Regions from separate parts of the Homo sapiens genome. Here region 1 is linked to region 2. Evidence: fine-mapped expression QTL. Tissue or cell type: whole blood. Region 2 holds a variant in brackets; the other region holds the start of a gene. All regions are shown on one strand. Distances are from middle to middle.

Evidence for each region. PIP is the estimated chance that this variant, and not a neighbour inherited with it, causes the effect.
Region 1: it holds the start of AAK1, and the variant in region 2 is fine-mapped to the expression of AAK1 in whole blood (TOPMed, PIP above 0.99).

The regions. Positions count from the first base shown.
Region 1 is chr2:69,638,812-69,646,994 of GRCh38, reverse strand. It overlaps AAK1 (AP2 associated kinase 1), which reads left to right and starts at 3,256. Exons shown (of 22, transcript NM_014911.5): 1 at 3,256-3,420; 2 at 3,721-4,117. The coding sequence starts at 3,955. It also overlaps a transcript of ANXA4 not described here. RefSeq lists enhancers at 1,470-2,072, 2,828-3,097 and a silencer at 3,178-3,507.
Region 2 is chr2:69,711,785-69,719,967 of GRCh38, reverse strand. It overlaps a transcript of ANXA4 not described here. Among named protein-coding and RNA genes, the nearest start is that of ANXA4, 26 kb to the left of the region's middle. The variant G/A (reference allele first, on the strand shown) is at 3,234.

The sequences.
Region 1 (8,183 bases), 73 kb after region 2:
CAATTAGGTGAAGCAAAGGACATGAAGACACTCAGTGCACAGCCTCTGAAAACCAGCCAGAACCAGTCTGTGGTTGGTAGTCTCTTACTAGGATGTTACTGAAATCAGTCTCTTGTCCAATCAAAGAAATAGTTATGGTTTGTGGAACAGGGGTTGGGGGGATACAGTTAGTCAGCATCTAGTGGTCAGTGAGCTACAATTGATTCAATATTGCTTATCTCCAGGCCAGTGTCTATTTAGCTACCAGAGAAAAAGAAAAACCTTGTGGCAGTTAGAAGATGGTTTACTCTTCAAGTGTAGGGATGTGTGACTTAACCCTTGCCTGACACAGCCTTAGGTCTTGTTTATAATTTGGCATCTTATTGCCTCAAAGAGTCTGTTCCATCGGTCATATGATCACTATTGTAACAATAGTAAATGGCACTTTCTTTTCCCACTCCCTTTGACTATTTACCCATAGCATCTTCCACACCTAGTTCAAAATTCATCTAGGATACTTCAAATCAATCTTTCCACCTTAATCAGATAGCTCTGTTTTGTGTCACATTTAAAGTAAATTATTTACTTTAAGTACTGCTAAGAACACACTCTATGTAAACTATTATACTGGATGCCCAAGGAGATAAGTAGAAGATGGTTCTCTGGCTTTGAGGTGTTTGGTTGAGACAGCAATATACATTAAAAGTTGAACAGGAATGCAAAGCAGCATGGGACAAATTATACAGAAAGTGTGATAGTTTTGAGATTATAGTGGCTGATCTGTTCATTATTTTGTACTCAGGAACTAAAAAATTACTAAGAGTTGTAAGAGCTCTGGTTTTATAGCTGAGATAATAAGCCCAGTGACACAAGTGGTCTAGGATCCCAGCTATGAAGTGGCAAGAGGTTTCCTGTCTCCTGGTCCTATGCTGCTTGTGCGTGGGTTTCTAACTATTCACGAGTCTTTTAATCAGTTAATGTTTGCTCTCTCTAAGTAGACAGTTTAGTATAGCCAGGTAAGAACTGGGCTTTGAAACTAAAATGTTTGGGTTTGAATCCTGGCTTTGCTATTTACTGTGTGACTTTGGGCAAGTCACTAATCTCTTTGCTTTACTTACCCACCTATAAAATGAGTATAATAATGGTACTTTACTTCATAGGGTGGTTGTGAGCATTATATACTTAATATATGTAAAGCATGAAAAACTGTGGATTTGTCATTATAATTGCTATTAGTCTGTGAGGGAATGGAGGGCAAGGAATCTAGTCATGTTTTTTGTTTTTTAAACCTCTTCCCTCAGCTTCTGATCAGAGCATTCACGTGGGTGTTAAATAAATGCATGTTAGCTACCTTAAGCATATTGGGAGTTTTTGTATCACTGAAGTAAGACTTGAGATTTGTGTAAGCCTGGACTAGTCTGGTACCAGAGAAGTCTAGAAAGGTAAAAACTGAGATAGCATCAGATTGATTTTAGGACCTAGCACAGCTTGTTTAAAAAAGTCAGTCAAGACAAATAAGTGCTGAGAGAAATGGGGGTCAATGAGTCTAATTCCAAATGAGCTTTCTCATCTATTTTAAGATCTGCTTCAAACTTCCTCAGACAAAAATCTGGCCTTTTAAGGAAAGTGCAGAGAACATGCCTTCGTGGGCTTAGTTTGAGGGAATAGGGGCTGCATTTCACCCTGGAGGTGGCTACATGAATTCGTGAACTGAGGTGACAACACTGACTCTCTCCGGAAGAAAAGATGCTATCTCTTCACGGAGTTTAATTACAATGGCACTACTTGAAACAAGCTGCAGCAGCAGCAACAACAAACGCTACTGTTAACCCAGTCACAGCTCAGCTCAATATTCAGATTAGAGAAAGCAAGAACCATTTTTTTCCCTGGGACACCCTTCTCTACTCAAATACCCGCTGAAAAAAAAATTCTGAGACAAGCACTAGGGAGTGGGGAAAGCGGGCAGAGATGAACAATAACCCATATTCAGGGGTTAGAAAAATAATATTAATAAATCATGGTAGGTTTTTTTGTTTGTTTTTGGCAGCAACTTGCCACTCTTCAGCATCATCCATCAGGAAATCTAGGTCGGAAAAGTGTACCAACTGACCTTCCAAATTTTCTGCATTTGGCAGATGCAAATCACACAGTCCATCCCCGCCCTCAGCACTTGGACGGTATCAGGGAAACGTAAGTATCAATGGAAGAATCTTGAAGTGAAAAATAAATAACTGGTCAGGTTAGGGTTAGTGTTCTTGTGTGCAAGGGAGCTAGTGAAGTTTAGGCTTTGATGCGCACCCACAGCGTCAGCAAAGGAGGAGGAATTAAGGGACAGCATGGGCCGAAAAGCCCCCGAGTTTTGAGGTCAAGCCAACGGGCTGGGTCTCCGGTATCCTAGGATCTGCCCTGCACACAACCTTTGGCAGTTTCTCGGTTTGAATCTCGCCTGTACATTTCCAGACGAGACACTGTCTTACTGAGCGTTCTCACAGCGCCTAGCTCAGAGCTGACCGCAGAGCCGGCTCTCAATAACATCGAGACGCAAAAGCAGCTTTTGAGGTTAGGGGCGGAAGGGCATCGGTTTTACTTATTTCAAGGCTGGCGCTCGGTGCAGCCGGATCCAACTGCCAGCACAATGTTCCCGATCACTTCTCGCTTCCATTTCAGCCCAGGAGACGTCGGGAAACCCACAGGACCCGCTAGGGGCTAAGCGGTTAAGCCGCGTCCTTCAGGTGTCAGTCTCGATCCGTTCGGAAACCACAACCTCCAGAATCCCTTGTGCCAGGAGGCCAGGCCGCAAATAAGATGGCTCCAGAAGGGTGGAACATACAGCGGGGGGGGGGGGGGGGGAACTTAGTTGTTGGCAGTTTCTTCACGGGATGTGTTTAAATTGCCGAGTCCCCACATACGCGCCACCCCACAAATCTCCTTCGAGGCCGTGGAGGCCACACGGCTGCCGCCTCGCCCTCTCCTCCAGGAGTATGCTGGGATTTGTAGTCCAGCAGCCGGACTGTGCCGAGCTACCTTTCCCAGCTTGCCCTGCGGCTCGGGTGATATCAACAGTCTTTTCCAGAACTCTGTCTGCACTGAGACCCTCTTCCCCCAGTCCTCTTCTCGCGGTCGACTCCTTCCCATCCGTGGCGACAGAACGGCGGTTGCAGGAGAGGCCCCGGTCCCTCGCCGCGCCGCCCCGAGGGGCACTTCCGGCGGCGGTTCACTTCCTGGTTGGGTGGATGGAGCCGGGCGGGAGCGCGCGCGGGGGAGGGGCGGCGGGTCAGTCTCCGCCCGGCGCTCCCGGGATCAGCTGGCGGGCGGGCGGGAGCCGAGCGCGGCCCCGGCTCTCGCTGCAGCGCCGCCTCTTCTCTGCGTCGCAGGCCGGCCCGGCGGCCGTGACAATGTCGCGGGGCTGGTAGCAGGGCGCCGGCCGCCGAGCCGTCTCAAGTGGGTGCTGCCAGGATGCCGCCTCGAGGGGCGGCGGGGAGACCCGGGAGGAGCGGGAGGCAGTGCCCGGGAGGGTCGGCGCTGCCGGAGCAGCTCGGATCCCTCCTTTCTCCGAGCTCCCGGCTCGGGGGTCCCGGGTTCTGGGGCCGGGGTCGCGTTTTCAGCCCCACGGTTTTTCTCGCCGGGAAAATACATGAAGCGTTTCCCCAGGATGATGGCTTTTGCTCCCCCTAGGACTCAGCGGTTGAATTTTTAAGCGTGTTACTGATTCATCCTCTCTTTCTTCCTCTGTCATCACAGGTTTAAACTTACACGAATCGCTTTCTGGAGGAGGAGGGGACCCGCTGCGCGATTGACACGCATATTCCTATAGGCATCCTCCCTCAGCCCCCACCCCCACGGCCGGATTCGGGTGGCTCCTCTCCGAGGTGAAATCTGAGAAGAAATCCTTGGATCTCTTTTCTTAAAAAAAAAAAAAAAAAAAAAAAATCTAGAAACCATCGGTATTTTGCTTTGCTGCTCCCTATTCGCAAGATGAAGAAGTTTTTCGACTCCCGGCGAGAGCAGGGCGGCTCTGGCCTGGGCTCCGGCTCCAGCGGAGGAGGGGGCAGCACCTCGGGCCTGGGCAGTGGCTACATCGGAAGAGTCTTCGGCATCGGGCGACAGCAGGTCACAGTGGACGAGGTGTTGGCGGAAGGTACGGTGGGGCTCAATGCGCCGTAAATTAAAATCTTGTGCTGATGCGGCAATACTGTGGTTTCTAGTTGTTGCATGTATGAATGGGCTTTGACCAGTTGACCCTCCCTTCCCCCTTCACTTGCCCTGTGAGTCATTGTCCTTGAGAGATTTAAAATTGAGATTTGAAAGTGACTGGGCTTATGGGGGTGTGGGGAGGTTGCCGAAATTGTTTACGTTAGTGGCCTTTTATTTTTATTTTTTTAATATTGAGAAGCCAAATTTTGAGGATCACACAAGAAAACGTATGTGTGAAAGTGTAAAGCTTTATGCCAAAGGCAGGGTGATGGGCTTGTCATCCTCCTAAAACTTAAAATCTTGATGTGAAGGCTGAAGGGTGGGGGGACTTTTAAGAAGAGAGGGGTTTCTCCTTCTCCTACCCAACTTTCCCACTTCCATGAGCAGGCATTGGAAGGAAGAGAGGATTTTCGGAGAACGTGAACGTGTTTTTCCAAGGGCCAAGGCTCTTGGTGGATTTCACTAGTAGATTTGTTTCCTGACCCAACTGTAATCAGGTCCCCAGGTTATAGCAAAGATAACAGAAATTACATAAAACAAATGTGGTTATTTTGAACTCAGTCTAGTAGGCCCCTCTTCCTTCTCGCTTTAGGTTTTGTTTTTTGTTTTTTTAATCAAAAGAAAAATTACTTGAGAGTGGCTCTGATTTTGTTTTTTCGCTATCAGAGAGGATGTTATTTAGATCTGCTGCATAAATTCCCTCTGTGTTTCATCTGTGTGTCTATACTCACGTAGATATACATCTTGATTCCCCCAGGCTTTCGGGAAATCTTTGCATGTCTCTTTTGGTAACCTTAACCTCGACCTTCATAATTATGCCAGACTCATACTTTTCACAGCCCTTCGCCTGCCTAGTGTGCTTTTATTTTTAATAAAAGCAGCAATTTCCTTGGCATGAAGCAATTCAGACTGATTGGATGGGGCCAACCTGCTGTAGGTTGTGTTATAGACCGAGAGGGGTTGGAAGAAGGGAGAGGTCTCTCTTACTGCAACATGGTGATGGTAGGGAACAGTTTTATTAGCAAGGGAAGAGAGAAAGCTAAGAGGCCTCTTTAAAAAGGGGCCTTTTGCAAGCTAAAGTTGAAGCAAGGGTCCTGACCTGGGCCTGGGAAATGCTTACCATGGTGGATGTTGCGGGCTGGTGGGTGGGTTTGGAAGAGGAAGAAGCTGTGTTTGGCTCTCAGCTTGTGTAAGCACTGGATTCAGCAGGGCCCAGTTTTCTGGGAATAGAGTTGAAGTCTGTACTTTAAAAACATGATTTTTAAAAAAGATCTCTGACAGTTAATGTCCATGTGAAATTATTGCTCTTCCAATCTCAGTACTGTTCTAGCTGCGCTTTATCTGGGGCCAGAGTCACTGTCCCCTTGGATCTTTCCCGTGGACTTTGGTGCAGGCTAGGAGATGCTTCTGTGCCCGCTGCCAGATCCGCACCCTTGAGTCTGATCTGTCTCTTTCATCCCTGTGCCAAAGCCCTTAACTGCAGTGGGGTGGAGAAACAGTGAAAAGGAGAGTGTGTCAGAGAGAAATCAGGAGAAACGAAGGGCCACAGAACACTTTCCTCCCCTCTGAATGGCCTCTGCTGACCTTATAGCCCACGAGCGTTTTGTTCAGCTAGGATGTTGTCTCATCACGGATGATGCTGCCCTAAGCGGTGCATGTTCTCCAAGTGTGAGAGAAGTGATAGGGAAAAGAAAAGGCAAAATTGGTCTTTGTTACCTAGGCTGCCTTCCTCTTCTCTGGGATTCATCTTTGAGAACTGCGCATCACGTATTGTGATATTTTTACACAGAATTTAGGACTTGTAGCTCTGCATTTATTCATTCAACAGTTTATGGAGTTGCCTGTGAAGTGCCAGGTGCTGTGCTAGGCTCTGGGGGTATACTGTTAAACTAGATGCTAGCTTTTACCAACTGCTTTAAGAGATGGAAAATAGCCAGTTATAGTGGATTGGTAAATGCCATCATAGAGATAAACTTAGGGTGCAGTGGCCCCCAGTTTTAGGGAGCCCAGGATTTCTGAAGGAAGTGACTGAAGAGTGAGTAGGAGTTAGTGTGGTGGCACCATGGGCAAAGACAGAGTAGCGAGAGAGAATGTCACGTAAAACTGGGTCTGGCTATGCGCCCTTTTTGTGTTCTTTGGCTTAAGTTGAGTTTGAATTTGTGGCTCTTAGAAGTATGTAGATATGTAGGAGCCAGTATACAAAGTATTTATGTAGCACCTACCAAGTCCAAAGACCCTATGAAGTTCTGAGATGGATGAGGGAGGTCTATAGTGTGATTGACATCTGCCTTTAAGGATCTGCCAATGAATTTGGGAAGATGAGGCATACATTCACACATACAGTAGCATGGTTACCAGCACTGTCTGTAGAGTCAGACAGATCTAGGTTCAAATTCTGGATCTGTTCTTTACTAGCTGTGGAACTGTAGGCAAGACATTCCAAACCACTCTTGAATCTCTGTTTCCCTGTGGCAGTGGTTCTCAAAGTGGGGCATACTTATCACCTGCGAGCTTGTTGGAAATGGAGATTCTCAGGCCTCACTCTGTAGGCTGTGGGTGTGGGGCTTAATAAGTTCCTGGAGAGATTCTGACGCAAGGTCAAGTTTGAGAACCACTGCTTAATGGGCTGGTCATGAAGATTAAATGAGGCAATATATATAATTAACATTTTCAGGTGTTCAATAAATGGTAGCCATTACTTACCAGCAACGTTATACATCATATGTATATATGTGGGGGGGGAGAGAGAGAGAGAGAGAGAGAGAGAGTGTGTGTGTGTGTGTGTGTGTGTGTGTGTGTGTGTGTGTTAAAGGGGAGTGGGAGCAATGTGAAAGCTAGTTGAGCTGCAGCAATCTGAAGCAATTCCTTTCCCCCATTGTTAGGGGACAGAGCCAGATGTTCTTTGCAGAGTCCTCACCAGCTCCTTAAAGGCTTAACAGACGTTTTGGGTAGCCATGCTCCTTCCCTGGACTCTCTTCTCTGTGAGTCCCCGAGTGCTGACTTATCTACAGTTCTAGCCAGAGTTGTTTAAGGACCACAGGAGTTGTACCCTGTGTGCCCAGAGCGGTGGCTAGGCAGTTTAGGGAGGAGTGGTGTGAGAGGCTTCAAAACACAGACCAGATTACCACCACATTCCGCTGATGATCTCTTTTTCTCTAGCGTGGGTATTGGTCTGTGCTTTTTCATAAGGAATTGCAAGAACCCCAAGGAGCAGGTGCTGGGTAAGACAAAAAGATGTCGCACTGCCATACCTCCCCTGGTAGCATCAGCCTTCCTGGCCTGGTTTCACTAACTAGTCCAGCAGGGGCTGTTTGGGGGAAGTGAAGGCTTTAAGTTATGAGTTTAGAGGAATATGGCTATTTCTAGGCTGGGTGCCAGGGAGAATATTTTCTTTCTAGCTTTCTCAGCAAAGATGCCATGATGAGAAGCTAAATCATGTCTAAGTTAATGGGCATATGATATCAAGGGAAGATTTGGTTTAAGCTTCCAGAATGAGCTCAATGGGAAAATTGGAGCAATGTTCAAAGAAGGATTGAGAAGCTGTGCTTTTATCATACTTCCTTAGCTATACGAGGACTTATATCTAAGCTTTAAACAATAAATGTTTATTTATTACTGTGTTGAAGACAACATTCTGGAACTATAAGGTGGACTAGATGGCTCCTCAGAACAGCTTTCTAATTTATATTCAAGGAATCCAGGTCCAAGGCTGATGAGAAGTACCAAATGTCCACATCAGTAAACTTTGATAATTTCTCCTACCTACAGAGCAAACTAGTAAGGCTTAAAAATGTGTGTGAAATCACCAAAAATTCCATTAAAGGCACATAATATGTTGGTGGTATCAATATGATACACGTACGTGCCTCTTTGTGGCAGGCACTGTATTAGGTTCCAGAGATCCTAAGATGAATGGGACACAGGCCTGACTCTTAACAGAGCTCAACACCTGAGATAAGTGTCCAGCACTTAAGCGTGGCCTTTGACATACATACCTTAGATGGTAAAAG
Region 2 (8,183 bases):
GTAATGACAACCAGAGAGCTTATTGCCAATTGGTAAAGACTTCGCCAGGCACAGTGACTGATGTCTGTAATCCTAGCACTTTGGGAGGCCAAGGTGGGACGATCACTTAAGCAGGAGTTTGAGACCAGCCTGGGCAACATAGTGAGACCCCATCTCTACTAAAAATACAAAATTTAATGATTTTTAACTAATGATTTTTGTATAATTAATAATTCAAAAAATAATTTTAGGCAGGGCATGGTTTCTCATGCCTGTAATCCCAGCACTTTGGGAGGCTGAGGCAGGTGGATCACTTGAGGTCAGGAGTTCGAGACCAGCCCAGCCAACATGGTGAAACCTGTCTCTACTAAAAATATAAAAATTAGCCAGGTGTGTTGGTGGGCGCCTGTAATCCCAGCTACTCAGGAGGCTGAGGCACAAGAATCACTCAAACCCGGGAGGCAGAGTTTGCAATGAGCCGAGATTGCACCACTGCACTCTAGCCTGGGCAACAGAGCAAGACTCCGTCTCAAAAAAAAATAATAATAATTTTTAAAAATTACTTGGATGTTGTGGCACATACCTGTAGTCCCAGCTACTCAGGAGGCTGAAAGCAGGAGGCTTTCTTGAGCCCAGGAGGCTGCAATGTGCTATGGTTGCACTATCATACTCCAGCCTGGGTGCAGAGCGAGACCCTGCCTCAAAAAAAAAAAAAAAAAAAAAAAAAAGACTGGAAAATAGTCAATGGTTAGAAAACTGTAAAAATGGGGGTGTGGCAAGGTCAGGAGTTCAAGACCAGCTTGGCCAACATAGTGAAACCTTGTCTCTACTAAAAATACAAAAAATTAGCTGGGCGTGGTGGCAGGTGCCTGTAATTCCAGCTACTTGGGAGAATGAGGCAGGAGAATCACTTGAACCTAGGAGGTGGAGGTTGCAGTGAGCCGAGATTGTGCCACTGCACTCCAGCCTGGGTGACAGTGTGAGACTCAGTCACAAAAAAAAAAAAAAGGAGGGTAGCTAGCTTGAGACTTGGAATATCAGGAAAAGCTTTATAAGAGACTCTGGAAGGACAAGCAGAGGCCATGCTGTGTATGCATGTGTGTGTATGCATGTGCGTATGCACACATGTGTATGCATGTATGTGTGTGCATGTATATGTGTGTGCATGTGTGCAGCATGTGTGTGTATGCACGTATGTGTATGCATGTGTGTGAATGTGTGTGTATGTGTGTGTATGCATGTATGTGTGTGCATTTGTGTATGCATGTGTGTGCATGTGTGCGCATGTGCATGCATGCATGTGTATACGTGTGTACATGTTTGTGTATGCATGTGTGTGCTGTGGATAGGGCTGGTGGGAGAGAAGGAAACCCCAAAGCACAAGAAGCAGCAGGTATAAAGCCCTGGAGCCAAAGAAGTCATGACAGGTTCTGGAAAGTGTAAGTAATTCCACAAGTCTGAACCTGAGTGATTCTATGACCTCTTCCAGTGACCTCAAATTCTGGCTAAGCATTTCCCAAACGTAGCTGAAATAGTATCTACTTGAGAAAGTTGAATATAATTTAGTTCCTGGCTGGTGTATTACATCCCCCCAAGAATCTCTTAAGAGATTGTCAGGTAAAGAAGGAAGGGTGAAATGACAAACATCCAGAGGGTGGGGGTGCCATTTATATTGCAATCCATCTCCCAGTGGTAGCCTTCTTTGGGAATTCTGACCAGCTGGGGGGACCTTTCCCCACAGGTTCAAGCTTTTGTCTAGCAAATCTGGGGTCCTCACTTCTGTTATGTAGATGGGAAGCAAGGTTCTCCTGGGGTTACACAGCAGGAACTTGACATTTGGAGAATGTGATTGATGAGTTCTGTCCTCCCACAGAGAAGTCCCATGGTGAGAGAGGGCTCTAGAAGCCAAGTAGCCAGGGGACTTTCCAAACTAAACATCTGCTATGAAATGCAGACCGCACTGAGCTATGCCTGACCTAGCTAGACATACAGCCTTAGGGTATCAAGCATCTCCCTAGCCAGGGTTTCCCCATTAAAACTATTCCTTTTAATTCCAGCTTTCTTACTTAGAGGACCCCTGCTGAAACATTCTAGAGGGAAGGGAGTGCATAGGTTGTGTACGTCTCTTAGTTTGCCTGTCATCTGGTAGAAAGCCAAGGCCCATAGGGATCCAGGCACATTCTAGTTTAGTTAGTGCCTGAAACAAGCAAACTGGATGAGGTACCAGTCCCAGGCATCAGGAAGGCTCAGGGCATCTGCTGCAGAGGCAAGGCTTTGTGGGGAGGGGTCACAGGGAACAACATATTCCAAAGAAGATGAAACAAAGAAAAGCAAAGTTTCCAGTTAGATACGTGGAGTTAAAGAGGAAATGGCGGTAACAGAAAGATGCAGCGACGGGTAATTCCAGAAATGAAAAGGATGGGACATCAGGCCTTTCTGCTTCAACTCAAAGTCAGATCCCTTGAACTCACAAAATAATATTGGCTGATACCCTGGAGAGGGAGGCCTTTGTTACCCTCATTTATGATGCAGGAATAATGATCAAATGCCACCTGCTTGTGTCGATGAGCCAGGCCTGACAATTAAAGGGTGGGCGCCAGGATGGGCTTTGGGAGTGTGGGATGAAAGGCACTGGATGAGAACAAAGGGGCCATGGTGGGAGTTTTCCAGCACCAGCCTCAGTTTTCTGCACAGAAGCCTCCTGCCACCTCAATGCCAGCTTTGAAGGCATAGGCAGGCAAAGAAAACCAACAAGCCAAACAAAATGCATATGGATGCTTTTAAATGGGCATGTTCCTATTCAGTGGGCATGAATTGGAGAATATTCATCTTCAGCCACCTCCTGCACCCTCAGGGCGTCAGCTCCTCCTTCCAGGACCACTGAAGAGATGGAGCCCCCACCCCAGCCCCTCTGCTACACGATGCTGCTTTACGGTCTCCCCTGCACTTCCCTTGTTTCTTGATTGGTTTCTCTGGTTATCATCTGTTTTGTCTTGCCACAGTGTGATGCCAGGGAGCAGAGGCTGGACGGTGTTCTCCTCCACACAGTGCTTGGCCAGTAGTAGGCAGACAGCAAACAGCTGAATTGATGACTCAGAAAAACTTAAACATCGCCAACTCTGTCATCTCTTTTAGTAAACCTACTGGACAATTCCATTTAAATGTATGATACTTACTTCAAACTGCACATGAACAAAACACAACTCTTTTCGTTCTTGCCCTCCCCTCTGGCCAATGACCAAGTCAAAAACGTC[G/A]AGTCATTTTCCATCCTGAGCTCTTCACCTGGATTCCCGGAGCAGCCTCATAACTAATCCGCTGCCCTCCTGTTGTGCTGTCTCTCAGACCCGTTCTCCCGAGTGATCTTCTCAAAACGAGCTTGAGCATGTCACACCACTGCTTGAAACCCTTTGGGGGCTCCCTGTCGCCCTCACATAAAGACCAAACATTTTAACCTGACAAACAAGGCCTTCCCTGATGTGGCTCTCGCCCGTCTCTCCAACCCCCTCTGCACATCTCAGCTCAAGTCATCCTGAGCTGCTCGCAGTTCCTCGAGTGCAGCTGCTGTTACGTTCACCCTCTGCCTCTCCTCTTATCTTTCTGGTGAATCCCTTTTTTCCTGGTTCACCTGTTCTATGAAGACTTTTTTTGACCAGTATTGTATTTCTCAGGACTCTTGACTTTAAGGGACAGAAACCCAACACAAACTAGCTTCAGTTAAAAGGGGATGTATTAACTCATTTAAGTAAGGACTAGACAGAGCCACCACAGGAATGGCTAGATCCAGACACCCAAACAATGCTGTCAGCTCTCTCTCTCTCTCTTACTCATATGTACATGTATTTTGGCTTCTTATTATGAGTTGGTCTCATCCTTTCTTGCTAGAGGAGACTGTACTCACAGAGAACTCTAGACTTACATACAGTTTGATCACTCCAGGAGAGAGTGAGGCTTCTTTCTCCCAGTCTCAGGTTATTAAAATTATGGGAAAGGCTAAGAGTAGCCTGGCTGGTGACGTGTGCCCAGCACTTGGCCCATGACTAGAGGGACAGTGTTGTGATTGACCATGCCTTGGACTCTCTTTCTTGACCTAGGAAGAAAGAATGGGTATTCCTCTTGAGGGAGCAGCTGCCAGATAAAAGAGGGAGTCTGTTATCACATAAAGAGGGTAGACCACTGATGTCTCCTTCTTACCCCTCCCTCCACCTCCATTTATGTTCCCACTGCCCTCTGTGCATAGGCACAGAAGGGGACAAAACACATTTTGGACTCAGATAGACATAGAGCCAGTTACTGGCTTTATAGTAACTATGTGACTTTGGGAATGTTTTAAGCCTCTTCGTGCCTCTGCATTTGCATCTGTACAATGTTTTAGGGATGTGTTGTGAGGGTTAAAAACCTAGGCAAATTATCTGGGACATAGTAGGTACTATGGCAGTCATAACAATTATATTTGACCATCTCCCTTTTCTAAACCATGATTTGGCCAGGCGTGATGGCTTATGCCTGTAATCCCAGCACTTTGGGAGGCCGAGGTGGGAGGATCACTTGAGACCAGGAGTTCAAGACCAGCCTGGCCAATATGGTGAAACCCCGTCTCTACTAAAAATACAAAAAGTAGCCAGGCATGGTGGTGCGTACCTGTAATCCCAGCTACTTGGGAGGCTGAGGTGAGAATCGCTTGAACCCAGGAGGGGGAGGTTGTGGTGAGAGGAGATTGCACCACTGCACTCCAGCCTGGGTGACAGAGCGAGACTCCATTTCAAAAAATAAATAAATAAAATAAAATAAAAAACAAACCATGATTTGCTTGAGGCAGGGCCTTATTTTAGGCAAAATTTAACTTGGTTATAAGAGCAGGGCTCAAATATATGATGGATTGATTTCTGTCCACTGAAACAGGATGATACTGAAAGATAAGGCAAGTTTTGCAGATGAGGGAGATATTCAGTTCTGTCTTCTTCAATCTTGGCTTTATGATACTGGCCCATTGTTATTATGTAGTCTTCTGTTTCAAGCTCTCCAAAGCATCTCCACATCTGTTACTTGACTTCACTGTGTCACCCTGGAGGGAGGACCTTGCGTTAGGCTTCATGAACAGATCTGATGAGGTATCCACAAGACACAAGGTTAACCAAGAATGGGCAGCAGGGGGCGTTGTGGACAAGCCCCGGGGAAGCCAAGGGAAAAACTGCAGAGGTTCTGAACCTAGACCTGCCCAACGTCCTGCTGACCGACTCAGGCACCTCCGGACCTGGGTGTCTGGCTATTGATTGGGTACATGCTGAAGCACGCTTGCCTCCCAGGGCATCCCATCACAAATTAGGCCCCAGCTCTGGGATCTGGCCCAACGCAGGCCCTCTCCCATGTATAGGAGCTGTGGGGACAACACAGGAGGTTAATGGGAGCTCGGCCAGGATCCCAGGAAATAAAGCACTGAGGTTTGATACACTGATGGGCACACTGTGGACAGCAGGCTGGCTGGACTGGGGCAGGTGGAGTGTTATGTGAGTTTTCGGTCACGTGCCCTCGCCGAAGCCCCGTCTCTTATATTCTTAGGCTTCCTTCGGCTTCGGTTGCCAGGAGTAGGTGCTTGTATTCTATAGAGTCGTTTATATTTGAAATCCTGCATGGATGCATTTGGTCCTCACCGCATCCTTCCTCCCTTCCGGAAACTGTACGCTCCCCTCCTTAGAAGGTCACTTCTCCACTCCATGGGGTTCTGGTGGGGCTCCCAGAATGTGCCCACATCTCCACCCTTACCCCACCCCCCGGCCCACCCAGCCACTGGAGGTGGGAAAGAGCTAGGGCTTGTCAGAAGGCAGACCTTGAAGGAGAAGAGCCTCCCAGTAGGGAGGTCAGGAATGTGCTCAAAATCCAGGCTCAGATGTCTTCAAAAGCCTGGAGAGATGTCACCCACCAGGCACTGTGGTCTTTGGCAACTCATGTGGGACAGAGGTGTAGACTAAAGAATGTTCTGCCCCATTCTCTTGCGGAGGACAGAGCAAGGGAGAGTAGAGCTCCTTCCATATTCGAATTTCCCTTTCTCCTCTTCACGGCAGGGAGTCCGACCTTTGTGTTCCTCCATCAAGTGGAATTTGTGCTGCAGGGTAGACAGCGAAAGCTGCTGAGGCATAACCGTTTTTCCCCCATTCTTTCTTTTTGTGAAAGGCAAAACTCCTCAAAGTCCTAAACTGTTAAGAGAGTTAGGTGCCCCAAGAGGAGACGGGAGAGCGGTGATGCCTTCAGGGCAGCAGCAGAAGCAATGGAAGGATGGATGAGGAACCCCACAAAGGGGAGAGAACTCTGGAGTCTGTGAAGAGCGGGGAGCTGAGACCCAACTCGTTATGTTACGGGTTGTGTGTTGCTGGATCCGGCAGGTAACAGCTTGCTGGACTGAATGTTAAAGTCTCAAGAGTTTTACAAACTGATTGACTTTACTTTTTAAATTGGCTTTATTGAGGTGTACAATTTACATACTTGGAAGCAGCTATGGTAGAAGTGTTTTTACACCATGGAGATTGGCACATACTACAATTCAGGGCTTTCTCTCTGCCCCAGAGCCAGCTGCTAAACATTTACCAGCACACCACCGAACATAAGAGTGGCTTCTTCCAATCTTATCATCCACATATCGCTTCTTCCTTGGGGAGAATGAGTGACAAGAATGGGAGGGAGAGGGCCAGAAAGTGTGTTACACCAATAGCACTCCCCTGAAAATGGAGTAGAGGTTCTTCATGGAAACAAAGAATGGAGATAGAGGGGCTCCCTCTACCTTCCTTCCATCCTTTCATTTTCTTTTTTTTTTTACTTCATAATAATGACTATACTGAAGATTTCAGGAAAGAATAGGAGGCAGCAGGGTGGTGGTTGAGAGTAAGGCTTTGGAGTCAGATGGCATTTGGGTTCCCACAGCAGCTCTGCCACTCTCTAGTTGTGTGGTGTTGTATAAAGTGAGCAAGGTCAGAGTGGGAAGTATTGTTGTATGTATTTAGGGTAGAAGCCAGTCCACTCTGGTCATCTGAGCTCTGTTGGGGATCTTCATTGGCCCCAAAGAGTCCTGTTTTCATCTTCTCTGAGCCACTGCAATGAATGAATGGTGGTAGGCGTCCACAAACCTGGTGCACAAAATGTGGATAGGATTTAGGTGATATCTTCACAACTCAAGAAGAACCCAGGCTTCAACAGTCCAAGAAGCTGTAATCTCCTTCTTCTAGGCACATCTGAAAACAAAATGCCAAATGGGAGGTCCTGTTGCTAATGTTGGTCCTCCAGTTCTTTACGAGGGAGTGGGTAGATCCCATGGCCTGTCTGAATGTCACTTTCCTCATCCATAGGGTAGAAATGACAGGATAACCTCATTATCTTTTGTGAATCCATATTAAAAGGCCCAGAACCATTGCAAATTTGTTACTGAAACTTTCTGGAGTTCCCCAGTTGGATCCAATTAGGATCATTACTGAGATGGTTGTCTCCCCTAGGCTGAAAGAAAAATGCCACCGTTAACCTTTAATCATTCACAACAAACCCAAAGAAAAAGTCCTTGGCCCAGGTCCTAATAGGGCTATTAAAGCTATTTTCCTATTCAGCTGCTTAGACTCGGAGTGAATAACCCGGTAATTTTCTACTGCTTCTCCCCACGGAATGTAAAGGACCAAGAGAGTGAACTCTCCTAACTAATGCGCTTTAAGGCAGGGGCCAGATTTTACCTTCCTGTCTCTTGGTTTGCTTCCACCCTCCAATTTTCTCCTTTGGTTGTTTTATTTTAGTGTGAGGGGTATGTGTTTGTGTGTATGTGGTGGTGGTGGTGGGGTGGGGTTGGGGAACATTTGGTTGTGTGTGGTGTGTCTGTATGTATGTGTGTGGTCTGTTTAGTGGAAAACTTTGGAAGCACGCAATAGTTACACATGGTGTCTAAGACCCCCCAGGAAAAGGAGAGACCAAGAGAATGAAGAGAAAAAAATAAAAATAAATTGAGACAAAATAGGCAACACATACAAAAATCCTATGTATAAAAACTGTTTTCTCAATTTCTTGCTCTCCTTTTTCCTTTTTGCTGCAGTAGAGACCCCCCCATCATGCCCCATATTTCTCTATGTCTCTTTTCTCTCTCTGTGCCCTCATTAACTCAACCTCCTTAACACTTCCAAAACCAGAAATCATTGTCCTGACACCATCCCCCACACCCTTCAAGTCCTATTTCTCTT